7 linked regions of the Homo sapiens genome follow. The protein of the gene in region 5 purifies or fractionates together with the protein of the main gene of each other region. This does not show direct contact. Each region holds a gene or a part of one and is shown on either strand. Other genes may lie near its edges.

Region 1 (4,083 bases), on a different chromosome or scaffold from region 5:
GGAGGCCAAGCTAGATGGATCGCCTGAGGTCAGGAGTTGGAGACCAGCCTGGCCAACACGGTGAAACCCCAACTCTACTAAATACAAAACTCAGCCGGTCATGGTGGTGCATGCCTGTAATCCCAGCTACTTGGGATGCTGAGGCAGGAGAATCACTTCAACCCGGGAGATAGAGGTTGTAGTGAGCCAAGATCACACCACTGAACTCCAGCCTGGGCAACAAAGCAAGACTCCATCACAAAAAACAAACAAACAAACAAAAAAAAAACTTAACTATTGGGTACTAAGCTCACTATCTGGGTGATGGGATCACTCATACCCCAAACCTCAGCATCACATAATTATACCCATGTAACAAACCTACACATTTTCTTTTTTTTTTTTTTCTTTTTTTTGAGACGGAGTCTCGCTCTGTCGCCCAGGCTAGAGTGCAGTGGCGTGATCTCGGCTCACTGCAAGCTCCGCCTCCCGGGTTCACGCCATTCTCCTGCCTCAGTCTCCCGAGTAGCTGGGACTACAGGTGCCCGCCACCATGCCCGGCTAAGTTTCTTTTGTATTTTTAGTAGAGATGGGGTTTCACCGTGTTAACCAGGATGGTCTCAATCTCCTGACCTCATGATCCGCCCGCTTCGGCCTCCCAAAGTGCTGGGATTACAGGCGTGAGCCACTGCGCCCAACCACAAACCTGCACATTTTCTAAATCTAAAATAAAAATGGAAATCAACAAATAGGCCAGGCATGGTGGCTCACGTCTGTAATCCCAGCACACTAGGAGGCTGACGTAGGAGGATCACTTGAGCCCAGGAGTTCAAGACCATCCTGGGTAAGATGGTAAGACCTCCATCTCTATAAAAAATTTAAAAATTAGGCTGGACATGGTGGCTTACACCTGTAATCCCAGCACTGGGAGGCCAAGGCGGGTGGATCACCTGAGGTCAGGAGTTTGAGGCCAGCCTGGCCAACACGGTGAAACCCCGTCTCTACTAAAAATACAAAAATTAGCTGGGCGTGGTGGCACGTGCCTGTAGTCCCAGCTACTTGGGAGGCTGAGACAGGAGAATCGCTTGAACCTGAGAGGCAGAGGTCGCACTGAGCCGAGATTGCACCACTGCACTCCAGCCTGGGCGACAGAGCAAGCGTCCATCTCAAAAAAACAAAAATAAAAAAGGTAGTCCTATCATTTAATCACATTTCCCAAAGCTTTTGTTATGTAAAATACTACTCCCATAAGATATTAAACAGGGGTTATCCCTAAAAATTGTTAAATAAGTTTGGGAAATTCTGGGTTAAACACCAAAAAAGATTTTGCGTTTGTTTTTTTTAACAGCAAGGCTTAAATGAGTTACTATGTTCTTATTCAGGTACATATGCAAGATGGGAATATGGTTTACAGTGTTTCTCAAAATTTGTGCACAGAAACATTATTTGCATTTTATTTTATTTATCTTTGAGATGAGGTCACTGTCACCCAGGCTGGAGTGCAATAGCTGGACCTTGACTCACTGCAGTCTCCACCTCCCAGGCTCAAGCAATTCCTCCCACCTCAGCCTCCCAAGTAGTTGGGACTACAGGAGTGTGTGTGTCACCACACCCAGTTAATTTTTTGTATTTTTAGTAGAGACGAGGTTTTGCCATGTTGCCCAGGCTGGTCTCGAATTCCTGGGCTCAAGCAATCCACCCGCCTCAGCCTCCCAAAGTGTTGAGGTTACAGGCGTGAGCCACCACTCCCGGCCTCTATTTTAGTTATTTATTTTGTGTCACATCTCAGAAGATTACTAGGTGTTTCAAGGATTCATATTTTAGAAAATAACAGCCAATCTTAACAGTATAATTCAAAATATGTCATTTTACCTTAATGTTATATATGCATATGTGCTTAGAAAAACTAGGCTGGGGGCCAGGCATGGTGGCTCACGTCTATAATCCCAGCACTTTGGGAGGCCAAGGCAGGCAGATCACCTGAGGTCAGGAGTTCGAGACCAGCCTGGCCAACACGGTGAAACCCCATCTCTAACTAAAAATACAAAAAAATAGCTGGGCATAGTGGTGCGTGCCTGTAATCTCATCTATTTGGGAGGCTGAGGCAGAATAGCTTGAGCCCAGTTGGCAGAGCAGAGATCGCGTCACTGCACTCCAGTCTGGGTGACTGGAGACAGAGCAAGACTCCGTCTCAAAAAAAAAAGAAAAAGAAAAAAGAAAAACTAGGCTGGGTGCAGTGGCTCATGCCTGTAATCCCACCACTTTGGAAGGCCATGGTGGGAGCACTGCTTGTGAAAATGAGTTTGAGAACAGCCTGGGCAACATAGCTCTATAAAAAAATTCAAAAATTAGCCAGCCATGGTGGCGCATGCCTGTAGTACTAGTACCAGCTACTCAGGAGGAGGAGGCAGGAGAATTGCTTGACCCCAACAGTTAAGACTACAGCAAGCTATGACTGTGCCACTGTACACTAACCTGGGCAACAGAGCAAGACCTTGTCTCTTTAAAAAAAAAAAAGGAAAAGAAAAACTAGTTGCTCATGCCTATAATCCCAACACTTCAGGAGGCCAAGGTGAGAGGATCACTTGAACCCAGGAGTTGGAGACCTGCCTGGGAAACATAGCAAGACCTCATCTTACAGATAATTTAAAAAATCAGGCCGAGCACGGTGGCTCATGCCTGTAATTCTAGCATTCTGGGAGGCCAAGGTGGGCGATCCTTTGAGGCCAGGAGTTCAAGACCAGCCTAGACAACATGGTAAAACACCATCTCTACTAAAAATACAAAAATTACCTGGGAGTGGGGGTGCATGCCTGTAATTCCAGCTACTCGGGAGGCTGAGGCAGGAGAATCACTTGAGCCCAGGAGGTGGAGATTGTAGTGAGCAGAGATCGCACCACTGCACTCCAGCCTGGTGACAAAGCGAGACTCCGTCTCAAAAAAAAAAAAAGAAAAAAAAAGAAAAAGAAAATAACCCTAAATGCCGAAAAAGATGCATGCACAAAAACATTCTAGTGTTCTTATAATAAAAATTCTGAAAACAATCTAAAAGTCCAATAACAGAAGAAAGTAAGATAGGGTGCATGCCCAAACTATAAAACACTCTGCCAGTATTTTAAAAGATGTTTACAGAGTTTTTAATAGCAAGGAAAAACATTTACCTCATAAGGCTAAATGAAAAGGCAAGATATAAAAATGTATATACCATCTGGTTCTGCTATGTTTAAAACAGTTTAGAAAGATATATGCCATATATAACAGCAGACTCTGGGTTGATGAATTAATATTGAACAAAAATTACATAACTAAATTTGCACTTAAGAAGCAGTAATCTGGTAGCAGTGTATCTGTAGAAATGAAACAAGAGAGGGACTGGAAATACGATGACCAGTTTAGGAGGTCACAGTAATATTTGCAGAACAACAGAAACTAGAATTTTAGCAGGCACTTGGAATGGCCCAAGTACTATGCCTGGTACTTGGCCATATATAGTAATTTCTTCTAACCCATACAATGACCCTTACATAATAGTAATAATTATAGAACAATGTGTTGGACACTTTTTATGTGCCAAACATGTAAATTACTTTATTTAAATTTTAATACGCATAATAATCCTGTGTTGCAGGAGTTATTCCAATTTCATTGATGAGAAAACTAAGACTTAGATTCCCAAGGCTATATAGCTAACAAGTACTGTAGATGGGATAAGGGTAACAGCAGTAGGAATAAAAGAATGATATTTTGATAACTGATATACATGAGGAGGGCAAGAGAGAAGTAAAAGATGATAATAAAAATAATCATAAAAAAATAAAACTCCCATAAATAAAAAAAAATACTCCCATAGAAATAAAAACACCTAGTGATCAGATCTTAGTTTTTAACATTACTCTTTAGTAAAAAGAACAAGGGCTTCTTGGAGAAATGGCAGACCGCAGGACTGGAGCAGAGAACAAAATCATACCTGCAATGATGGCAAATGTCAAAGGGAGATGGGCCAAGTAAAAAACTAAAAGAGTTCCCAATGTTCAAAACTGGAACATTTGAGCAATAAAGCAAATAAAATAGTATTGGATTATAACCTAACATATAAAATACACA
Region 2 (3,144 bases), on a different chromosome or scaffold from region 5:
GAGGCCGCATCCTTCAAGGCCCATGTGGGCTGTGCGTTTCTCAGACCCTCCTTCTGTCCCTACACCTGCTCCTTGGACCCCCCAGTCTGTGGCCACCCTGAAGAATGTGCAGAAACACTTGTGTGGCCTGTCCCTGTCTCTCTGACAGCCTTCTATTTGTGAAGTGCCCTGTGGCCCCCTCCCCAGCACCTCTGTCTGCCATGCGCTTCTTCCTCCCAGGCTACCCTGAGCCTTTCCTGGCCCAGTCCTCACCACAGTCCACAGAAGCCGCAAACAGGCTCATAGCCAAGCTGTGACCTGGTCCTGACCATCTGGGGCACGAGGGCCTGGGCTGGCCCTGCTAGGCTGGAGAAGCCCTGTCACCTGTGCACATCTTGCTGGTGGAGGCATGGCCCACTGTGCAGGACCCCACCCTCGGGGGCTTTCGGCTCCCACACTGATGATTCTCCCCAGCATCCACACCGGGCCTGGCGCTACGTACTCAGGCCCCCAGCTCTCGTGTCCTGGAGGAAGAGCTAGCTCCAGACATGGGTTGATCACCTAGAGGAGCTCTGGCTAAGGCACAGTTTTCTAGAAATAAAACATTTATTCGGTTTTTAAACAATTAAAAAATCTTGTCTGGGCAGGCCCTTTGCTCAGGCCTGTGTGTCCTGCTCAGCCACTCTGTCGACCACACTGACCCAGGGGCTGCCCCGGACATAGAAGCGGAGGGGTTTCCGGGCCCACTCCCCTGCATGGCCGACGCCCACCCGGGCTGCTGCCACTACAGCCGGCTCACTGGGCTCCAGGGGACCACGCTCCAGCCATACAGCTTCATCCTGTGCCAGGTCCCTCTGGTCAAAGCTCTTGTTGATGGCCAGGGCCTGGCACAGCTTGGAGGGGCCACTGCAGAGCTCGCGGTCCTTGAGGACACGGCTGGCGGTGCCTTTCCGGAGGGTGCTGCGAAGCTGACGCATGGTCTCCAGACCTTCCAGGGGCTCCAGTGCTCGCAGCAAGACGCAAGCCCCGTCCCCTGTGGGACGGACAGTTTGGAAGTGGAGCCTCCCTAGGCTCCTGTCCTCTCTGCCCTAGTACACATCCAGACATCCTGTGCTGCAGGGAGGGTGCAGCTGCCTTCCTGCCTGGGCCAGGGACCTGCTCTGTGCACCTGCACCATCTCCTGGGTCTGACCTGGTGGGAGGGGGCTGCACCTCACTGTGTCCAGACCCCTCTGCCTACCTTGCCATCCTCCAAGCCTGCACCATGAGGTGTGCCTCCTGTGGGCACCTCTGGCTTCCACCACCAGGCAGGGCCTCCCCCACTGTGGCCGCCCCCACAAAGCCAGACTGTTAAAAACACATGACAAATGCTGGGTATCAGTTCCTTTCCACCTGGCTTCCCCTGGTCTTGTGACTGGCAGCAGCTATAAAGCCAGCAAAGGAAGCTCCAGAGAGCCAGTCCTCGGGTGCGATCATTCAGCCAGGAAGCAGGAAGCCTTGGCCTAGCCAGGCCCCAGCGCTCCCCTTCTGCCTCACCCACTCAGTGTTTGTGTTGGTCAAGTGGTGGGGGCTAGGAGTTGGCTTAGAGCAGCTGCCAGTGTGCACCGGATGTTGGGAGAGCCCATGCAATGACTCAGTGGAAGGACTGACTGCAACACCCTGCACAGGCAGGGCAGGAGGAGGCTGACAAAGCCCCCTCACCTCCCTTGGGATCCCTCCTCCAGCCTAGCCCCCTCCCTCACCAGGCCAGGCCCCTTGAGAAACAGAGACAGCAAGCGAAGGCTCCTGGGCCCAGGGGCTCACTCAAGCACAGATACCCGAATTCCCTCTGCCCTGCAGGTTTGGAAAGGCCCCTTGGATTCCTGGCTGGGGACAATGATGACCTGGACCCTGGCCAGAAGAGCCCTGGCCCTCCAGCAAGGCAGCACCTGCTCTGATGCACCTGTGCACCCCTGGCCCTCCCAGCCACCTGGGAGTCCGAAGCTTAGCCTGGAGGTGGCCAAGCCAGTCCCTACTCTTGGGCTGCGGCCACGTGAGGCTCCGCATCAGCAGCCAGGGGCGAGCACTAGTGGACAAAGCCAGCAAATGCGGCGTTCCTGTGAGCAGATACCCTCAACCAGCCAGCTGTCAAAAGTATTTCAAGATAAAATCCAGGCCAAGCAAAGCCTTTAAGTTCCCGTCCATTCTGTGATTCCCACGCTGCTTCCAGCTCACCAGGTGGGGTGCCTGCTGCCCACCCTGACCCACCTCAGTAGGGAGGAGCAGGACCCTCTACATCCCTGTGGGTGCAGGGCACACGCCCCTCGTTGTCTCACTGAGCCCCCACAGAGCCGCCTGCAAATGAGTCAAAGCCTGGCCGCCCTCATCACCACAGCCCCGTGCCCTGGCTCCTTCACACAGAACACATCCAAGTCCCACATCCTGACAAAAACATGACCCCTTTGATCACTTCCTGCCAAACCTCCCTTTCCTCACCGACTCCTCCGCCGACCCTAAGTCCCCCTGCTGTGCCCACTGCTCCATCCTTGGCAACCTGACCACGCTGCTCTTAGCACTGCAGTCATCCTCTTCTCCAATCAGCTTCTCATCCTCATGTGCTGCCTCCGTCAAGGGCAGGCGACACTGTGTCCTCGGCCTTCTTTCTGCCTCCACTCCAACCAACCCTTTCTTTTCCTTTCCTTTTTTTTTTTTTTTGAGATGGAGTCTCGCTCTGTCACCCAGGCTGGAGTGCAATGGCGCGATCTTGGCTCCCTGCAACCTCCGCCTCCCGGGTTCAAGCGATTCTCCTGCCTCCGCCTCCCTAGTAGCTGGGATTACAGGAGCCCACTACCACACCCAGCTAATTTTTGTATTTTTGGTAGAGACAGAGTTTCACCGTGTTGGCCAGGCTGGTGTCGAACTCCTGACCTCAGGTGATCCGCCCGCCTCGGCCTCCCGAAGTGCTGGGATGACAGGCGTGAGCCACCGCGCCCGGCCCCACCCGGCCCTTTCTACCCCTTTAACCTAACCAGCCCTGCCCCGTCAGCGTAGCCAGAGCTCCCGAAACCCTGGCCTGGCCTGGAAGTGGCACCTCCTCGCTCAAATGCTGGCCCCACCTCAGTCCTCCTAGTGGTCCCCTGGCTGCTAGCGGACAGGGCTCTGCCGGCCCTCCAACCCCCCGTGCCCC
Region 3 (3,205 bases), on a different chromosome or scaffold from region 5:
TATAGTCTTTATGGCCAGTTGCGTACTTATAGTACTCTTTAGAGATTGTATTATCAGCAGGCTGTATATTTTTCCACTTAGGTTCCAGCGCCAGAACAAGTTGAAAAAGGTGGTGTGAGCAATGTAACAGAAGCCAAACTCATAGTTTTCCTAACCTCCATTTTTGTTAAGGTAATTTAGAATTTTCAAGGCTAGCAAATATTAAAGTGCAGAATAAAAGAATGTTAGACTGTAAGACACTTACAATCTGGCATTAAGTCTCGTTTATTAAGATAAGGGGGGGATTGAAGCCCCATTGTTTTTATTTTGAGAAAATGTATCTAAGACATGTAATATTTTATAATGACATTTGGAGTTTTCATTTACGATAATAACTTTTTGTAATGTCAGCTAATTCTAATTGAGACAATACTATGTTGTAGTGATTAGGAATTGGAAATTTTTCTGTGAAAGAAATAGCAGAAGGTGAAATGTATTTCTTTGTACTGTGTGTGTGTGTGTGTGCACTGTTTTAGTAGCATATAATCCTTTACGTTCTCATGAAACTAAAAATTAAGGGAGCAATGTCTAAGGAATTATTTCATCCTGGGAAATATGGACAGATTTAGAGCAAATTCAGTAATTGTATTCAGTCTTTGAGATAGGAAAGTTTGTTATAAACATCAGTTGGGCACATAATGTAAACATTTAATTATTAAATTCAGAAAAGTTTAACTTAATCAGGATTTCTTTCTTTTAAATTGTGTCTTTTTCTATTTAGGCTGGATGCAGTCCCTCTGATATTGGTATTATTGCACCGTACAGGCAGCAATTAAAGATCATCAATGATTTATTGGCACGTTCTATTGGGATGGTCGAAGTTAATACAGTAGACAAATACCAAGGAAGGGACAAAAGTATTGTCCTAGTATCTTTTGTTAGAAGTAATAAGGATGGAACTGTGAGTTAATTGTGTTTGCTACTGATTCATTTGGGGCATTTCTCTCTCTTTAAAAATTGTGGGCCGGGCGCGGTGGCTCACACCTGTAATCCCAGCCCCCTGGGAGGCCAAGGCGGGTGGATCACCTGAGGTCAGGAGTTTGAGACCAGCCTGGACAGCATGGCGAAACCCTGTCTCTACTAAAAATACAAAAATTAGCCGGGCGTGGTGGCAGGCGCCTGTAATCCCAGCTACTTGGGAGGCTGAGGTAGGAGAATTGCTTGAACCCAGGAGGTGGAGGTTGCAGTGAGCCGAGATCGTACCATTGACTCCAGCCTGGGCGACAGAGCAAGACTCTGTCTCAAAAAAAAAAAAAAAAAAAAAATTGCGGTTTAACATTGAGAACATGTGGACACAGAGAGGGGAACAACATACACCATGGCCTTTAGCGGGTTGGGGGTGAGGGGCGGGAACCTGGTGGATGGGTCAACAGGTGCAGCAAACCGCCATGGCACATGTCTACCTATGTAACAAAACTGCACGTTCTGCAGATGTATTCTGGTTTTTTTTTTTTTTAAAGAAAATAAAATTGTGGTTTAAAAGAACACATAAAACATACATCTTACTTTTTTTTTTTTTTTTTGAGACGGCGTTTCCTCTTGTTGCCCAGGCTGGCATGCAGTAGTGCGATCTCGGCTCACTGCAACCTTCGCCTCCCAGGTTCAAGTGACTCTTCCGTCTCAGCCTCCCAAATAGCTGGGATTACAGGCATCGCCATCTTGCCCGGCTAATTTTTGTACTTTTCTAGAGATGGGGTTTCACCATCTTGTCCAGGCTGGTCTCGAACTCCTGACCTCAGATGATCCACCTGCCTTGGCCTCCCAAAGTGCTGGGATTCCAGGCGTGAGCCACTGTGCCCAGCCCATCTTACCATTTTTAGGTGTACAGTTTAATTAGTGTTGAGTGCATTCACAGTGTTGTTCAACAGATCTCTGGAACTTTTTCATTTTCAAATCTAAAACTCTGTATTCATGATTAACCACCCATTTTCTTCTTCCCCAGCACCTGTAACCACCATTCTACATTCTATCTCTGAATTTGACTAATCTAAGTACCTCATATAAGTAGAATCGTACAGCATTTATCTTTTTGTGACTACCTTATTTCACTTAGCCAGCTAGTTCATCCTGTTGTAGTATGCGACAGGATTTCCTTCCTTTTTAAGACTGAATAATATTCCATTGTCTCTATATACCACATTTTATTTATCCATTCATCTGTCAGATGGAATGGTTGCTTCCACCCCTTGGCTGTTGTAATTGAGGCCTGTTTAATATAAAATCTTCCTTGTATACTTTCAAATTTATAGACAATTCAGATTTGATTTTTTTTTTTTTTTTTTGAGATGAGATCTGGCTCTGTTACCCAGACTGGAGTGCAATGGCACAATCTCGGCTCACTGTAATATCCACCTCCCTGGTTCAGTGATTCTCCCATCTCAGCCTCCTGAGTAGCTGGGATTACAGGCATGCGCCACCATACCCAGTTAAGTTTTGTATTTTTTGCAGAGAGCCATGTTGCCCGGGCTTATGGGCAACTCCCGAGCTCTAGCAATCCTCCCACCTTGTCCTCCCAAATAGTGTTTTTTTTTTTTTTTTTTTTTGGTTTTCTTATTTTTACCTCTCCTTAGTTCATTTTTCTCAACTGTATAATACATCCATATGGTTTTAAAATATACGTAATAAAAGGTTTCCTTTGTACTCCATCCCTCATCTACTCAGTTCTTACCTCAGATAGTCTCCTTTTTTTTTTTTTGAGAGGCTAGGTCAGAGTGTGGAGGCATGGTTATGGCTCACTGCATCCTTGACTTCTGGGCTCAAGCAGCCCTGGCTCAGTGATCCTTTCATCTCAGCCTCCTGAGTAGCTGGGACCGTAGGTGCACACCACCACGCCTGGCTGATTTTTGTATATTTTGTAGAGATGGGGTCTCACTGTGTTGCACGGGCTGGTCTTGAACTTCTGGTCTCCAGTGATCCACCTGCCTCGGCCTCCCAAAGTACTGGGATTACAGGCATGAGCCACTACACCTGGCCTCATTCTATTCTTAAATTTGCACAGGTGTCCATTGTGTAGGGATGTGTTGTAATATATTTAACCATTCCTTTGAACTTGAATAATTGAAAATTATATTTCTTACAGGTTGGTGAACTCTTGAAAGATTGGCGACGTCTTAATGTTGCTATAACCAGAGCCAAACATAAACTGATTCTTCTGGGGTGTGTGCCC
Region 4 (4,716 bases), on a different chromosome or scaffold from region 5:
CAGACTGAGAGGGTTTCCCACCTGAAGTAACAGACAATTTAAAAGGTAACATATTTATAGCTGTACTTGGAATGTATGGATATCGGGGGAAGAACGCCTACCAGGCTGTAAATAGCAGGAAGTCCTGTTGTCACCTGGTTTCATCTGTAATGTTAAGATAAATTATTGGCCGGGCCCAGCACTTTGGGAGGCTGAGGCTGGTGGATCACCTGAGGTCAGGAGTTCGAGACCAGCCTGGCCAACATGGCGAAACCCCGTCTCTACTAAAAACACAAAAATTAGCTGGGTGTGGTGGTGCATACCTGTAATCCCAGCTATTCAGGAGATTGAGGCAGAAGAACCACTTGAACCCAGGAGGTGGAGGCTGCAGTGAGCCGAGACTGCACCACTGCATTCCAGCCTGGGAGACAGAGTGAGACTCCATCTCAAAAAAAAAAAAAAAGATAAATTATTTATTTTCTAAATGTACATATGCAAGTTTCATCCAAGCACTTCTGACATCTTTTGGTGAGGATTCTCCAAGAAGAAACTATTTACTTTTTGACTGACATAGCCTGTGGGTATGTTTCTGAAAAATGTAACTTGGAGAGATGGGTCTCCAACCTAACTCAGGACTGTTTTTACTGTTTTTGCTCCCATGCATGAAACATTAATAGCTAACACTTATGGAATAGTTATGTTCCAGCCACTTAATTATTACAATCCCCAAATCCCTAGTACTTATTTTATCCCCTTTTTAATCCATAGTACTTATTTTATCCCCCTTTTAATGATGAAGAAATGGAGCCCAGAGAGGTTAAGTAACTTGACCAAGGTCACACAGCTATTAAGTGGCAAATAAAGGCTTCATACTCAGTCTGATTCTGGAGTTTGTCCTTTTCCTTTCTTTCTTCCTGTTCTTCTCTTTGTTTTTTTTTGTTTGTTTGTTTTTGAGACAGCATCTCCCTCTGTCACCCAAGCTGGAGTGCAGTGGTGAGATCATGGCTCATGGCAGCCTTGACCTCTCCAGCTCAAGTGATCCTCCCACTTCAGCATCCCCAGTACCTGAAATTACAAGCACATGCCACCACGCCCAGCTGATTTTTAAAACACTTTTTGTAGAGACAGGGTATCCCTATATTGCCTAGGCTGGTCTTGAACTCCTGGATTCAAGTGATCCTCCTGCCTTGGCCTCCTAAAGTGTTGGGATTACAGGCATGAGCCTCTGTGCCCAGCCAAAAAATGCATAGTTTTAAGGAGAAAGGAAAAGGCTCATAATTATTGCTGTGTAAGTCTTAATATCTTGTTTATTGTTAAATTATGTGTCAGGCACTGTACTAAGTTATTTACGTGCACTTATATGTTTAAAAAAATGAGAAACTTAGAAATATTACAGGCATTGAGAGGTAGGTTAAAGTTCCAACAGTTGGGAGATGTCTTGAGTCTTTTTCTTCCGGCAGTGGGAGGTAATAAAGTATAGTGATGAAAAGGACAGGCTCGGCAGGGCATGTGGGGTCATACCTGTAATCTCAGCACTTCCGGAGGCCAACGTGGGAGGATCACTTGAGCCCAGAAATTCGATACCAGCCTGGGCAACATGGTGAAACCCTGTCTCTACCAAAAAATACGAAAATAAGCCGGGTGTGGTGGTGCGCACCTATAGTCCCAGCTATGAGGGAGGCTGAGGTGGGAGGATCACTTGAGCCCAAGAAGGTGGAGGCTGCAGTGAGCCAAGATTGCACCACTGCACTCCAACCTGGGCGACAGAGCTAGACCCTGTCTCAAAAACAAAACAAAACAATCCCCAAGCTATGCATTTTTCCACTCCAATACTCACTTTGATTAGAGATCTAGTCTCATCCTGGCGTCATTTTTCGAGGTCAAGACTGAGACCACTTAACAAGACCTTCCTCAAAGTGGGGTCATCTATAGCTTATCAGATCACTTTTCCTACATGCATCTAATCGTCTTGTCTGAGGGGAAGGTTTATTTCCTCTCCAACTTAAACCCTTGATTTCATTCCTTCCTAATTCCCCACAAAACGTTTCTACATAAATATCCTGTTATCTCAGACCTGTAAGTTCCTTCATTCAACAAGCAATGGTTGAGCGCCTATAAAGTACCAGGCACTTAGAATTCTGTGATCAGAATTCTCCTCCGTTCACTGGCTCCTCCTTTCCATGAGCTCAGTCTAGTGGGGAATACAAATATATTCACGAATGATAATGACACAACCAGGTAAATGCTACAGTTCTGGTAGGTCTGAACTCTCGGCAATATTCGCTAACAAGACAGGAGGCGGAAGGGGGTAGCGGGAGACCAGGGCACTATATGAAGGGGCCTGAGGGTAAGGGAAAATGAAAAGGACGAATAAAGGGTTGTCGTGGGTGGATTAAAGAAAGGGATGAAAATGGGCGCAAGGCAAGCAGAGTGAGCGAAATGCGAATAGTCAGAAGCGGAATGAATGATAGATCGGACTCCAAAGGCACGTAGGCTCGTACAAGAGAAAGTGCGGCCGTCTCACTCACTTCTGCCGCAGGCTCTCCTCCCTCTCCTTGTCGAGGAGGCTAGGCCAAGGCTTGTCGCTCCCGTAGGGGCGCGAGTAGCTGCCGTAATAGACTGACGAGGAGGCAGAAGCGAAGGGGATGCCCCGGGGCGCAGAGGGCCGCTCTCTAGAACGCGACCGCGAGCGTGAGCGGTAGGACTGGTTTCGGGAGCCTTGGCTGAGGCCACCCAGCTGATGGGTGAGTCCATTCCGGTCCCCGGACCGAGAGCAAGAGTGCGAGCGAGAGCGGCGGCCCCGCGGGGAGCGGGCAGATTTGCTGGGCTTCGGACTCTTCGACGAACTGCGACGTCTTCCCCCCGAGCCCGAGGCCTCCCTATCCGGGCTGCGTGAGCCGGACACCGGAGCCATGGCTACTGGGGGGCCCCAGCAGCCGTGGGACAAGGGGGCGCTCTCGCGAGCCTAGGAAGATGTCTGTTGCCTTGGTTCCCGGGACCTGCCGCTGCGGAACAGCCCAAATCTGAGGAAACCTTGGACACAGTTCTGGGTACTTCTGCAAAACCCTTCCCCGGATCTAGGCGGTCGTCACCGACAGGAAGCGATGTGTGCATCAATATAAATAAGCCGGTGGGGCAACTAGATTGCGTGCATCCTTCCAGTTCCGAGTGAGGCTCCTCAAGTCTAAGCAAGAGACCAAGTTCTTTCTCAGCCTTGAACTTGAAACACTTGAAGGGAAGTATATATTTCAAACACAATATACAGTATACATTTCACTGAGTGGCCGTATGAACAAGACAGTTAATTCTGCTTGTGTTTCCTGTGCTTTCTGTGTGTATTTATATATAAATGTGTGTGTGTGTGTGTATGTCATGTATGAAAGTATGAATGTGTATTTTCTTTTTCTTTCCAATCCCAAGCAAATCGGGAGGGTTTTTCGCGACTGGGGATTAGCTATGGTGTCTAAGCCCCATATTGCCGTGTTAGCTTAGAGGGCGCAAATTTTGTTAATGACTCGCGCCTGATAAACTTCAATTAAGTTTCCCGCCTAGAGAAAAACTGCATACTTATCCCCTAGCCACCGTCTCCACCAATATGCCCCAGCAAAAGGAGGTTTTTTTTTTTTGAGACTGGAACTCACTCTGCTCACTCTGTCGCCCAGGATGGAGTACAGTGGCAAGATCTCAGCTCCCTGCAAACCTCCGCCTCCCCGGGCTCAAGCTATCCTCCCACCTCAGCCTCCTGAATAGCTGGGATTACAGGCGCATGCGACACCAAGCCTGGGTAGTTTTTTTTTTGAGGGGGGTCGGGGGAAACAGGGTTTCACCTTGTTGCCCAGGTGGTCTTGAACTCCTGGGCTCAAGCGATCCGCCAGCCTCGGCCTCCCAAAGTGCTAGGATTATAGGTGTGAGCCACTGCGTCTGGCTTGTATTTTTTTCCCCAAAAAGTGTCATTTTATTTTTTATTTTTTTATTTTTGAGACAAGGGCTCCCTCTGTCATCCAGGCTGGAGTGCAGTGGCTATCCTGGCTCACTGCAACCTCCGCCTCCCAGGTTCAAGTGATTCTCCTGCCTCAGCCTCCTGAGTAGCTGGGATTACAGACATGTGCCATCATGCACAGCTAATTTTTTATTATTTTTTAAATTTGTACAAATCTATGGGATACATGTGAAATTTTGTTACATGTATATAATGTGTAGTGATGACGTCAGGGTATTTAAGGTGTCCATTATCTGAGCACAATACATTTTTGTTAAGTGTACTCTCGGCCTGGTATGGTGGCTCACGTCTGTAATCCCAGCACTTTGGGAGGCAGAGGCGGGTGGATCACTTGAGGTCAGGAGTTTGAGACCAGCCTGGCCAACATGGCGAAACCCTGTCTCCACTAAAAATACAAAAATTAGCTGGGCCTGGTGGCACGTGCCTGTAATCTCAGCTACTAGGGTGGCTGAGGCACGAGAATCGCTTGAACCCGGGAGGCTGAGGTTGCAGTGAGCCGAGAGTGAGATTGCACCACTGCACTCCAGCCTGGGCAACAGAGTGAGACTGTGTTTCCAAAAAAAAATAGTGTACTCTCACTCTACCATGCTGTCAATATCAAACATTGAATTTGGGGCTGGGCATGGTGACTTACACCTGTAACTCCAGAAATTTGGGAGGCCGAGGCGGGCCAATCACTTGAGCCCAGGAGTTGGAGACCAGCCTGGGAAACATAGGGAGACCCTGTCTCTACAAAA
Region 5 (4,083 bases):
TATTAGGACTTTCCACCTATTTTGAGTCACTGAAAGTCCTTGTCAGGTAAAGGCAGGGTATAAAGAAAGAAATGATGCCAGGTGCAACGGCTCACGCCTGTAATCCCAGCACTCTGGGAGGTCGAGGTAGGCAGATCACCCGAGGTCGGGAGTTCGAGACCAGCCTGACCAACATAGAGAAACCCTGTCTCTACTAAAAATACAAAATTAGCCAGGCGTGGTGGCGCGTGCCTGTAATCCCAGCTACTTGGGAGGCTGAGGCAGGAGAATTGCTTGAACCCAGGAGGCGGAGGTTGCAGTGAGCCGAGATTGTGCCATCGGACTCCAGCCCGGGCAATGAGAGTGAAACTCGGTCTCAAAAAAAAAGAAAAAGAAAAAAGGAATGAAGAAATGAGAGCATGGAGGGGCTGGGGAGGATGCAGGCTCCAGCCCCACCAGGTTGCACAGACTGCACACGGCCCATTTCACAGATGGGAAAACAGGCCCGGGGCAGTGAATGAACTTCAAAAGGCAAATGGCCTGCCCTCTGCTTCTCCAGCAGAGGCAACAGCCCTGTGGGGCCAGGGGGTGGCTTGCCTTGCTGTCGGGGTAGAAGTAGTGAGGAAAAGTTATCAGAGGGGCCGTTGCCTTGGCCACTGAGTGTCCCCTAACCCTCCAGGGGACCCTCTCAGCCTGTTTCTTCCTCTGGGGAATGGGGCTTCCTGTCAGCAGCCCTGCCACCTCCACCCAGTGGCCCATGTCCTGTTTGTACCTTCTGCCAGGACATGGAGGAAGCCAATGTCTGTCTCTCACTGTCCCTGGTCCTCGTCCCTCCCTCTCCCCACATTCCTCCCACTCTCCTCCCCATCTGGTCTTTGGATGGGACAAAAGCATATATTTTGTATTTGTTTTTTCTCCAAACAACTCCAGTTCTCTGTTCTTTGCATTCAAAGTGCTCACTGTGCCTCTGCCATTTCCCGAACACAAGCTCAAAGCTGCCTGTGACCTGTTGGGGCTCTGATGGGCCTGTTTCCTGTAGGTCCTGCGCCAAAGCAGACTCACTTGGGGACTGAGCTCAGGAAGCCCCAAGGCCACCGGGCTCCAGATGTGGTCCTGGAGTGAGCACGTTGCAGGAAGGGGGCTCCTGAGCTCCCCAGCTGTTGCAGCCACTGGCCTGGCCTCCCCTACCCTCTGCACTCAGTCCACTGCTTCCCACACCACCCACCTGGTCATGACAATGTCGGGGGCCCATAGCCCAGGGCCCCTCCCTTCAGAGCCCAGCCCCACCAAGCCATGGACTGACGCAGGTCCCACTTGCACATCTAATAAGCATGTTCATGCAACAAAATTGAATTCAGCTCCCCCTGAAACTGCTCCACCTTCAGCTGATGACAGCTGCATTCTTCCTGACACCCAGGCCAAAAACCTTGGAGCCATCCTTGACTCCTCTTTCTCTTTCATCAGGAAATCCTACTGGCTCAACTTGCAAAAGAGAATCAGAATCTGACTGTTTTTCTCTTCTGTTTTTCTTTTTTTTTTGAGACGGAGTCTTGCTCTGTTGCCCAGGCTGGAGTGCAATGGTGCGATCTCGGCTCATTGCAACCTCCGCCTCCCAGGTTCAAGCTATTCTCCTGCCTCAGCCTCCCGAGTAGCTGGGATTACAGGCGCCCGCCACCATGCCCGGCTAATTTTTGTATTTTTACTAGGGACGGGGTTTCGCCATGTTGACCAGGCTGGTCTCGAACTCCTGACTCAGTTGATCCACTCGCCAAAGCCTCCCAAAGTGCGGGATTACAGGCGTGAGCCACTGTGCCTGGCCCCCAGGCAAACTCTTAACAGCTCCCCAGCTCACCAGGCTGCTCCGCCCCAACACATACTAACATATACTTGCTCTTCCCCCTGCCTGGAGTGCCATTCCCTACCTCACCTGCCTAGAAACCCTGACACACTTTCGAACCTCCCAAGCTTGCCCGGTCTCTGAGGCCTCTCCACACCTCCCAGCTCTCCCTCTAACTGGACCTCAGTACCGGCTGCTAACTGTCCACATTTCCCTTTTTCTTTTTTTTGAGACAAGGTCTTGCTCTGTTGCCCAGGCTTCAATGCAGTGGTACGATCGCGATCACAGTTCACTTCAACCTCAACCTCCTGGGTTCAAGCAATCCTCCCACCTCAGCCTCCTGAGTGGCTGGGACCACCAACACACAACGCCATGCCTACATCACCATGCTCAGCTAAGTTTTCGATTTTTTTTTTTTTTTTTTTTGAGATGCAGTCTCACTCTGTCGCCCTGGCTGGAGTGCAGTGGTGCAATCTCCACTCACTGCAACCTCTGCCTCTAGGGTTCAAGTGATTCTTCTGCCTCAGCCTCCCGAGTAGCTGGGACTACAGGTGCGCACCACTACACCCAGCTAATTTTTGTATTTTCAGTAGAGACGGGGTTTCACCATATTAGCCAGGCTGGTCGTAAACTCCTGACCTCATGATCCGCCCACCTCGGCCTCTCAAAGTGCTAGGATTATAGGCCTGAGCCACTGCGCCTGGCCCCATTTTTTGATTTTTTGGGCTTTTTTTCTTTCTTTTTTGAGACAGACTCTTGCTGTCGGCCAGGCTGGAGTGCAGTGGCGTGATCCCGGCTCACTGCAACCTCTGCCTCTCAGGTTCAAGCGATTCTCCTGTCTCAGCCTCCCGAGTAGCTGGGACTACAGGCATGTGCCACCACGCCCGGCTAATTTTTTTTGTATTTTTAGTACAGACGGGGTTTCACTATGTTAGCCAGGATAGTCTCCATCTCCTGACCTCGTGATCCATCCGCCTTGGCCTCCCAAAGTGCTGGGATTACAGGCGTGAGCCCCCCCGCCCAGACTTTTTTGATTTTTTGTAGAGACAAGGTCTCCCTGTGTTTTCAGGCTGATTTCAAACACATGGCCTCACACAATCCTTCTGCCTCGGATTACAGGATTGGGATTACAGGCATGAACCACCACACCCAGCCCCGCTGTTTCTTGAAAGCAAGGACTCATGGGAATCCTTGAAAGCAAGGACTCATGGGAATCCTTGAAAGCAAGGACTTGCCCATCTCCCCCATTTCTTGAAAGCGAGGACTCATGGGATTCTCCATGTCCCGAAGCCCAGCATAGGGGCCAACATAGCATAAGTGCTCAGTAAACGTTTGCTTAACTGTCAAGCCCCACATCCGAACAACCACAGCTCCTACAACTTGGAAAGCACTTTCACATCCACTGTCTCCTTCTTGCCTCCCAACAAGCCGGCGGGAGGGGGTGGGAAGGCCATCAATTGTATTGACAGAGGAGGAAACGGGCGCTCAGAGAGACAACACGTCTAAGATTGCTGCAATCCCAGGAACTGGCAAGGCCATGTTCCAGCCCCTCCCTGCCCCTCTGCCTCCCGCTCCCTGCACGCCCAAGATCCCTGACCTGGGGATGATGCGCTGGGTGAGGCGGTTGGTGGGGATGGAGAGGGGAACCTGTTGCTGTAGCCTCCGCTGCTCAAACAGGCCTGGGAGGTCATGGGCCCAGATGTGCGTGGATTTCCCTGCAGAAACAGGAAGAGGCCAGGCCTGGGGTGTTGGTGGGCAGGATGCTGAGGCGCTGGAGCCCCTGCGGACCCTGCCTCCCTGCCCATCCCACCTTGTACCTGAGAGTGACAGCAGCACGTTGTTCACGCAGTAGAGCCAGGAGCAGCGATGTGAAATCAGCTGGAGGCCACAGAGGGACAGATGGTCAGCACCCCAGGCCCCCACAAGGCCTCTGCCCCCCACAGCCAGCCGGGCCTCACCTTCTCCAGCGTATCCTCATGCAGTTCATGCAGGTTGAGTGTGTAGATGCCTTCCTCGGCCCCTACCACCAGGAACTGGTCTGCCAGTTTGGGCATGGGGTCAGAGGTCAGACATGGCCCCTGGCCCAAGCTGAGGGATTCCTTGGGCTCCCGCTTCCTCCCTGCCCCCACCTACCCCGAGTAACAGGGTGAATCCAGGTGACAGCAGCGTGGATCCGCAGGGGGCAGCCATTGAAGACCTTGGAGAAGCAGGCGCCCATCTGCAGAGGAGGCAAGAGGCTGGCGAGGGAGTGCAGGGGTGGTGGGTGG
Region 6 (4,083 bases), on a different chromosome or scaffold from region 5:
ACGAATGGACATGGGGCAGATGGACTATTTTACTCAGCCACAAAAACGGATCAAAAACGGATGGACACGGGGCAGCGTGGCCGGCAGGGATGAAGGAGGGAGCCGGCCTCCCGCTGCCTACGCGGGCTTCAGGGAGACCACACAAGTTCTCGGGGTCTCAGTTCCCCCACACGTAAGACTGTTCCTCAGGTTCCACCTGCCTTTCAGCCCTGTACATGTATGAGTTCAAAATTCAGTCGGCAGACAACCCGGCATGCAGCAGTCAGACAGGAGAAAATAAAAACAATGTGGTGGGGGTGGGTGGAATTCTACTAAGAAAAACAATTCGGGCTCCCAGGGAGCCTCCACAGACACCAGCCACCACTCAGCCCCAAGAGTTCAATGACACACAATCCCACTGCCAGGGCAGTAATGCTTCTTGGGGCAAAATACCATTGGTCTTAAGTATTTTGGATCAGAGCAAATTCTCAAGGCCATGAAGTTCACGGCCTCATTTGATGGTTTTATAAAGCTGCGGTCTTCATGCTCTAGTAATACACACTGATTTTCAAGATTACAAAAGCAGCAAATCCAGAGCCTCTACACGCCGGTTCAAGCCAAGTAGCCCTGCTCCCTTCCGCTGACCACCACCTGTGCCCCGCGTTCTGGCTGTGCGAGGCGCAAGCCCCACAGCCAGGCGGTCACGCCAGACGGGTTTACAGCCAAGACCATGAAACACCCAGGGCCAGAAAGACTGCACCTGGGAACATGGTACCCTGGGCTTACTGTGGCCCACGAAGCCTTCTGTGGCCACTGCACTCACACAGGGCAGCATGCTGCACCCACCCACTGCACTCACACAGGGCAGCGTGCTGCACCCACCCACTGCACTCACACAGGGCAGCGTGCTGCACCCACCCACTGCACTCACACAGGGCAGCGTGCTGCACCCACCCACTGCACTCACACAGGGCAGCGTGCTGCACACACCCGAGGCCTTGTCTGAGCCCTCATGGTCCTTACACGGCACCTTGACACATGGACCCTGCCCTCGACTGAGGCTCCGCCGGCTCGCAGCCAGCCACAGGAAGGGATCCTGGTCTCTGCTAGTGGGCTCCATGAGGTAACCAGAGTCAGAAACCAGGGGTGAGTCTCTTCCCCAGGACCAGCTGGCCAGGTGACTGAAACCAGCACAGCACCCACGCCTCTGCCCCTGGCACCTCCAGGCTGCTAAGAATCAGCTGTCAAGATGCTCGTGGGGACGGAAAGTGTTGCACACATAAGGGATTCTTACGAGGCAGAGGAAGCCAGGGGGGTTCTGCTGACATGCTGACAGCAGTGGACTGAGGGAGCCCACCTTCCATTTCCAGGCAGCCAAACAGCACTGACAGCAGCAGGGAGGCGGCCAGGTCATCACAGGGGCCTCCACACCAGCAGCCACTCGGCTGGCTCTGCATGGGGTGGTCACGCGTATGCCGCCTTCCCCCGCATACGGCTCCGTGGCTTCAGACAGAAACAGAGAAGCTAAGGGTCCCCTTTAGTGAGACTGGAGAGGCAGGGGGAGGGTGAAAGACAGAAAGACCTGCCGAGTCACATGACCTCCCACCATGTCCGCCGACCCCAAGGGATGCTGGGCAGCAGGCCTGGCTCAGCCGGGGCCCCACAGTCCTCCCGAAGGACATGTGTCATTTGAAACCTCATCCTCACAACCCGCTCAAGTGGGAAACCAGGCCTGGAAGGGTTAAAGGAACGTGAAAACAGAACTCCTAAACCCCAGCTCCCCGGGGAGGGCTTAGCTATGAAACAGGAAGCAGACAGGGCAAACCCTGGGACCCCTCTGGTCCACAAGAGGAAAGGCCCAAGGCGCCAACCCCAGCGGCAGAACCTCCTGCCCGCAGAGCTGAGGAGGACAGAAGCGGCAGGTGCCAGTCCCTCCTAAGACCAGTGGGCAATCATACAGCCCAGTCACCAAGACACGAGACAGGCCCATGGGAGCAACTGTTCCTCCTGCCGGGCCACCACAAGCCGCCCACCTCCCCAGCACTCCAGGCCAGCAGGGCCCTCCGGGATGGGGAGCTCAGCAAACAACACCCAGAGCCGAGACCCTGAGGCCCTGGTGCCCAGGACCGAGGAACGGCCAAACCTCACCAACGCCAGACAGAGGCACCAGGGACTGAAGCCTGGGAGAGTGAGTGCACCCGGCCCAGGAGGCTTCCCGGGCCAAGCCCACAGGCCTGAGTGGGAACCGGAACGCTGAAGGAACACTCCCCAAGGGGCGATGAAGTTCCCATCACTTGGGGACGTGGCGGCGATCCTGGCGCAAGCTCAGAGTGCTCATGCTGTGGGAAGAGGCTGCACGGGGCCCCGGGAGTGGCCGCTGACCCGCAGGCTCCCCAGACGGACGTTGCTGGGAGGACAACACAATGGCCCACGGGGGGACACAGGCTTCTCCATCCTCGATGGTGGATTCCGGAGGTTCATCCAGGATCCACTGGGGGAGGGGAGGGAAGCAGCGCAGTACTTTTCCACACGCTCCCCCGGAGCCCAGGAATGCTGCTCCCCAGGCCCAGCCGCCCACCCTCCTAAGCACTTGGGTTCAGCTTCACAAAACGCTTGAAACTTTTTTTTTTTTAAAACAATTTCCCATGAGAACCAGGGAGAGTCAGCAAGGAAATATCCATATTAGCAGAGACACCCCATTTCACTGGGAGACTGGCTCCCAGACATACAAGAACATGAGCCCCTGAGCCCCCACACTCCATCTGAAAACCCTCCCAGTAGCCCGGAAACTGGCCACAGGGGCATGCAGTTTGCAGAGAATCCAGCTGAAGGCAGCTCCCTCCGCCAGCTCCCTCGGAAGGAACGTGCTGCCGACCCCTGCTGGTGAACCGGGCTCCACCGAGACCGCATTCCCTGGCTTCCCAGGCCCTCTTCCCGCTGCCAGCTCCTCCAAAGGCTAAGGAACCAGCTCCAGGTCGCTTCCCAACGCTCAGCTGGGCGGGCCTGAGACCAACTCCACGCCAGTGGCCGGAAAGCCAAGTGAAAGCTGGTGACTCTGCCGGCAGCTGCGTGTTACAGACCAGCAGAGTCCAGCCCTCAAAGCGTAGCTGGAGGAAACAAAGGCTTTCTTCTTTCCCCTCTTGCTTTCCAGCTTTCTTTTAATCAACACGTATTTTAATAATGAAAAATAATCACATACTTTAAAATAATTACTTGAACCTAAACAAAAGGACAGACACCACTCCCTCACTTGGGCAGGAGTTTTAACCTCTGCCCACAGTCACCGTAAGCCGAGCTGTCTTGGGGGTGCTGCCAGTGACCAGCGGCCTGTGTGGGGATCTGGCTGGAGGAGGGTTCACCAAGAAGGGAGAGCCAGAAGCCTCTTGACTCAACTCAAAAAGTCCAGGGTGACGCCGCGCCCACCAAAGTCGTGTGTGCCTGAGGCTCTGCGGAATTGAGACTGGGCTGAACCACAGAACAAGAGCTCCAGCAGCTCTCGGGAAACCAGCGTCCATCTGGAACCCAAACTAAAAAGCACAACTGGACCTCAGGCTGTGAAGAAGGAGTGAGTAAGAGGCAGTCGGGGGGTGGGGGGGGAGGGGGGAGGGATAGCATTGGGAGATATACCTAATGCTAGATGACGAGTTAGTGGGTGCAGCGCACCAGCATGGCACATGTATACATATGTAACTAACCTGCACAATGTGCACATGTACCCTAAAACTTAAAGTATAATAATAAAAAATAAAAAAAATTTTAAAAAAGCACAAAAAAAAAAAAAAAGAGGCAGTCAGCCTGGGAGACACAGGAATTCAACAGCCTGCGGAGGAGGAGCCGAAATTCAAGGTGAGGCTCAGGTGGAACGCGGGGCTGCCTGCTGACCCGCTGCGCGGGAGCCGCAGGACCTCTGCACCTGCCAGGCCTCAGCCTCCGGGTGACCTTGGGGTGTTCTGCTAGAGAGCCCAGGACAAGCTGTCTGGCTGTGCTTGGGGTGCTGTCTGGCTTCCCTCGCCCGGGGGGTGGCAGTGAGAGACGACCCTCTGAGACAGCCAGGAGCTCCTCTAGGCACACACCCCAGCTTCTCCCCTCCACCCACGCCTGCTG
Region 7 (4,083 bases), on a different chromosome or scaffold from region 5:
AATTATATGATTACATCATGACCTCAGTATTGTGATTTAATGTGTTGTGAATTCCTGGCATGTCTGGCTTATCGGTGATAATATAAGCACGATATGCACTCTAAAGCAAACAGACAGGATGCCAATCTGCATTACAGCTCTTACCTAATCAAGAGTTGACACATTTTCAGATGCTTTGGTGAAAAGAAGAGGGAGAGGCAGGAATGATCAAAGTAAACATTTTACCTTGAATTTAGAGGGAATAAAAATATAATATTGCTGTAATTTTTCAACTGTCTGGTATTTAGAGGAAACGGCACATTTCACAGGATTCTTCAGAGCTGCTCGCTGAAGTTTTTGAACCTGAAGGAAGAAGATCCAGAATAGCACACTGATGCCTAAACACTCTTTATTTATGACATGGTTTGGCTCTGTGTCCTCACCCAAATCTCATGTTGAATTGTAATCCCCACATGTCACGGGAGGGACCTGGTGGGAGGTTATTGGATCACAGAGGTGGTTTTCCCCATTGCGGTTCTCATGATAGTGAGTTCTCACAATTTCTCATGGTTTTAAAGTGTGGCACTGCCCCCACCTCCTGCCTTGCTTCCCCTTCACCTTCTGCCATAATTGTAAGTTTCCTGAGGTCTTCCCAGCCATGTGGAACTGTGAGTCAATTAAACCTCTTTTCTGTATAAATTACCTAGTCTCAGATAGTTCTTTATAGCAGTGTGAAAACGGACTAAAGCAATTTATTTTTCCTTATTGTTATTACTATTTACTTTATGTATCAATTCTCATAAAGAAGAAACAAAAGTCCTAGCAAATTTCACCTTCTTGGTCATGGTGGCAGAGAAGAGGAATGTTTTCCGATCTCGAGGAATCACTTTGAGGATCTTGTCAACCTAAAGCACAAAGAGGAAAAGATGCCAATATGATATTCAGACTGGAAGAGCTGCAAATCCTCTAGGTAGTGAAGGAGGTAGACACTAACAAACTAAATATATCACTGTGAAGATTTGGGACTCGAAAATTCAATTTGATTCAGCTAAAGTTTACTGAATATTTACTATCTGATACCCTACCAAATACTATTAAAAAAAATACCTTTCTGAGAAAAGAACAGTTTAAATTAGTAGACCAGAGCTGATTTAAGAGAAAAGTCAAGAAAAAGTATTAATCAACTAAGTAAGCTGGGATTAGTGGGTCATCAAAGAAAATAAAGATATTTCAGGGTGTATGTCAAGGTCTAAATTAAACGAAAGGGAAAAGAAAATCCGGTTTTGATATTTCCCATTTCTGAAGTCAGAGTCAGACTATATTCTAAAGATAAAAGGGTGCTGAGAAACTGCAATTTGAAGAATATCAAGAATGAAACTGATACTAATGCAATGTTCTACATGAAACAAGTGGGCAATGAACCAAATTTTGAAACAGGAACCTTGAGATGCTCTAAGAGGAGGAAAGAAATTGAGAGCTCACCTCTGTCTCAAAATCCATATTCAGTATTCGGTCGGCTTCATCCATGACCAAGTATTTGAGAGCTCTCAAGTTGAAACCTTTCGTATTTTCCAAGTGGTCAATCAGTCGACCAGGAGTTGCTACCAAGAAAGGTTGAGGAGAAACAGTGACATTTCAGAACAGGACAAAAAAAAAACAAAACAAATAAACAAATAAAGTTATCTGCCCCACCCCACAGCTCTCCACCAAATTTAACTTAAGAAATTAAAAAATTTAACAGGGTTACAAAATCTGTTTCTCAAAGTCTTTCTATCCAACACTGGTAGATTTTCTCCAATTCATCACTGCCAGTGTCTTTTACCTTTGTCAGTTACTCACCTATTATTATATGTGGTTTTTTTGCAAGGGCCAAAGATTGAGACATTGAATCAATTCCACCTACAATCACAGCTACAGAGAAAAAAAGAACATAGAGACGAGATCCTTAATTTTTTCCACAGTCCACTGAACATCTTTTAAAGCCAATGCCAGATTTCTACTTAGATTTGTTCTTCCCTTACAATTAATACTCTTCCCAAAGCTCAAATACAACATTAGCTCTTTAGGTCAATAAATTATGCTAGCAATACTTTCCTCCATTCTCCTTCCTCCACACTCATTCTTCACTTGTGATGGCAACCTAGGATCCCTTCCCTCTCAGACACTTACCACTCTGCACTCCAATAGAGGACCCCAGGGCTTCAAACTGCTCTGAGATCTGAAAGGCCAGCTCCCGAGTCGGGGTAAGAACTAGGGCAAACAAACGCTGCGGGGTCTCCAGCAGTGCGTTTAGAATGGGCAAAGCAAAGGCGCCTGTCTTTCCAGAGCCAGTTTCTGCAAGCCCAATGATATCACGACCTAAAAGAAAAAGAAATTCAACAGCCAAGTAATCTCTTTGCGCTATTTCTGTGTTTTCTACAATGACACAATGCTGGGCACAAAGTAGACGCTTAATAAATATCTGATGAACTGGGGAGAGAGGAAAGTTGAATAAACAGAAAAGACATGGCCTCTCTCTTAGATAAGCTCAAAACCCAGTGGTGAGACAGACAAATATACAAATGCATTATAATGTGATAAGAGTTTTAATATAAGCCCCTGCAAAATACAGCGAGAACACAAGGAAAAGTAACTACTGCCCAGAAGAGTCAGAAAAGGCTAACAGAGGTGATAAGTGAGTTAAAACTGGAAGTAAGCAAAGAAGGGAAGAAAGGATATTCCTGTAAGAGGAAAGAGAATTAAGGCTTTAGAGAACATAGCATGCTGGCTGGGCATGGTAGCTCACGCCTGTAACCCCAGCAGTTTGGGAGGCCGAGCCAGGCAGATCACCTGAGGTTGGGAGTTCGAGACCAGTCTGACCAACAAGGAAAAACCCTGTCTCTACTAAAAATACAAAATTAGGCGGGCATGGTGGTGCATGCCTGTAATCCCAGCTACTCGGAAGGCTGAGGCAGGAGTATTGCTTGAACCCGGGAGGCGGAGGTTGCGGCAGCGGTGAGCGGAGATCGTGCCACTGCACTCCAGCCTGGGCAACAAGAGCGAAACTCCATCTCAAAAAATAAAAAGAACATAGCATGCATAGTTAGGCTGAGAAGTACAATGTGGCTGGAACACAGAAGTGTTAAGGGAGAAAGAGGGAAGAATGAGGCTAGAGTTTTGATGTTTTCCTATAAGAAAGAATTAAAGGATTTTAAACAGGGAATATCATGATCAATATTACTGTTTAGGAAGATAAACTCTAGACCTGATGGCATAAGGAGGAGCCAAGGAACTTAACAGTGCATGCCAGTTACTGCTCCTTCTGAGGGAAGAATGCTCTAAGTAATTCTTTAAGAACAGGTCACCACTGTTTGCTATCACCACTCAAGCCACAACTCATAAGACTTGGAAATTAACTCCTGAGTTGAGATCACTATCTCCGAGCTGGCTGTAGCCCATGAGGTAGCTATGCACTACCACAGTGGCCAGTGAGAATGCTCCCTATTAAATCATGACCCCTACAGTTGCTGCCCCTGTTCTGACTGTGTAACTGCTGAGAAGTTTTCTTTACCTAGAAGATAATCCTACAATAAACAAATCTCTTTTCCCTGACATAACCTGAACATGACTTACAATCAGAAATGACTTAAATGACCAGAACAGGGAAAACAAAGGCTTAACTGGGACATTGGATGTAATTCAGGGGAGATATGATGGTGGCCTGAACTGAGGCCAGGAATGAGCACAGGAATGAGATTCAGAAACTAACAAAAGGAAATGTGGGTGACTCACACATTTTTAGTACGGGACACTCAAAAGCCAAAAACTGCAATATAGGCAACAGAAAAATTAGTCCTGGTGAGGAAAATAAGGACTTTGGTTTCCACACAGGGAACTTGGAACTTAAGATTCCTATAGTAAACTCAAAGAGATATGTCTAAAAACCAGTTGGACATACTTGTTTAGAGATATGTCTAAAAACCAGTTGGGCATAATTATTTGGAGGTATGTCTAAAAACCAGCTGGACATACTTGTTTGGAGCTCAGGAAAAAAGTGGGGGTTAGAACAGACATGGGAGCCATGAGTATCCTACCACTGGTACTTCCTCAGGGGCAGATGCTTCA

The links.
Region 1: the proteins of MAP4K2 (region 5) and PYM1 purify together in Homo sapiens (affinity purification with mass spectrometry, with the first as the bait; one study listed by BioGRID). This does not show direct contact.
Region 2: the proteins of MAP4K2 (region 5) and MPG purify together in Homo sapiens (affinity purification with mass spectrometry, with the first as the bait; one study listed by BioGRID). This does not show direct contact.
Region 3: the proteins of MAP4K2 (region 5) and DNA2 purify together in Homo sapiens (affinity purification with mass spectrometry, with the first as the bait; one study listed by BioGRID). This does not show direct contact.
Region 4: the proteins of MAP4K2 (region 5) and NKAP purify together in Homo sapiens (affinity purification with mass spectrometry, with the first as the bait; one study listed by BioGRID). This does not show direct contact.
Region 6: the proteins of MAP4K2 (region 5) and CHLSN purify together in Homo sapiens (affinity purification with mass spectrometry, with the first as the bait; one study listed by BioGRID). This does not show direct contact.
Region 7: the proteins of MAP4K2 (region 5) and DDX47 purify together in Homo sapiens (affinity purification with mass spectrometry, with the first as the bait; one study listed by BioGRID). This does not show direct contact.

Annotation. Positions count from the first base shown.
Region 1 is NC_000012.12:55,917,721-55,921,803, forward strand, and holds part of PYM1 (partner of Y14 and mago), read right to left. Parts: intron 29-4,083; exon of another isoform or gene 1-28. UniProt on the Homo sapiens protein: Key regulator of the exon junction complex (EJC), a multiprotein complex that associates immediately upstream of the exon-exon junction on mRNAs and serves as a positional landmark for the intron exon structure of genes and directs post-transcriptional processes in the cytoplasm such as mRNA export, nonsense-mediated mRNA decay (NMD) or translation.
Region 2 is NC_000016.10:83,269-86,412, reverse strand, and holds the end of MPG (DNA-3-methyladenine glycosylase), read right to left. Parts: intron 1,028-3,144; exon of another isoform or gene 1,013-1,027; coding exon 636-1,012; 3' UTR 567-635; downstream 1-566. UniProt on the Homo sapiens protein: Hydrolysis of the deoxyribose N-glycosidic bond to excise 3-methyladenine, and 7-methylguanine from the damaged DNA polymer formed by alkylation lesions.
Region 3 is NC_000010.11:68,416,769-68,419,973, reverse strand, and holds part of DNA2 (DNA replication ATP-dependent helicase/nuclease DNA2), read left to right. Parts: intron 1-81; coding exon 82-171; intron 172-760; coding exon 761-940; intron 941-3,118; coding exon 3,119-3,205. UniProt on the Homo sapiens protein: Key enzyme involved in DNA replication and DNA repair in nucleus and mitochondrion.
Region 4 is NC_000023.11:119,940,713-119,945,428, forward strand, and holds the start of NKAP (NF-kappa-B-activating protein), read right to left. Parts: upstream 3,040-4,716; 5' UTR 2,894-3,039; coding exon 2,508-2,893; intron 1-2,507. UniProt on the Homo sapiens protein: Acts as a transcriptional repressor. Plays a role as a transcriptional corepressor of the Notch-mediated signaling required for T-cell development. Also involved in the TNF and IL-1 induced NF-kappa-B activation.
Region 5 is NC_000011.10:64,792,860-64,796,942, forward strand, and holds part of MAP4K2 (mitogen-activated protein kinase kinase kinase kinase 2), read right to left. Parts: intron 4,035-4,083; coding exon 3,950-4,034; intron 3,855-3,949; coding exon 3,775-3,854; intron 3,695-3,774; coding exon 3,634-3,694; intron 3,532-3,633; coding exon 3,414-3,531; intron 1-3,413. UniProt on the Homo sapiens protein: Serine/threonine-protein kinase which acts as an essential component of the MAP kinase signal transduction pathway.
Region 6 is NC_000007.14:1,120,999-1,125,081, forward strand, and holds part of CHLSN (protein cholesin), read right to left. Parts: intron 3,545-4,083; exon of another isoform or gene 1-3,544. UniProt on the Homo sapiens protein: Hormone secreted from the intestine in response to cholesterol, where it acts to inhibit cholesterol synthesis in the liver and VLDL secretion,leading to a reduction in circulating cholesterol levels. Acts through binding to its receptor, GPR146.
Region 7 is NC_000012.12:12,819,462-12,823,544, reverse strand, and holds part of DDX47 (probable ATP-dependent RNA helicase DDX47), read right to left. Parts: intron 2,338-4,083; coding exon 2,149-2,337; intron 1,891-2,148; coding exon 1,819-1,890; intron 1,581-1,818; coding exon 1,462-1,580; intron 885-1,461; coding exon 813-884; intron 343-812; coding exon 226-342; intron 1-225. UniProt on the Homo sapiens protein: Required for efficient ribosome biogenesis. May have a role in mRNA splicing. Involved in apoptosis.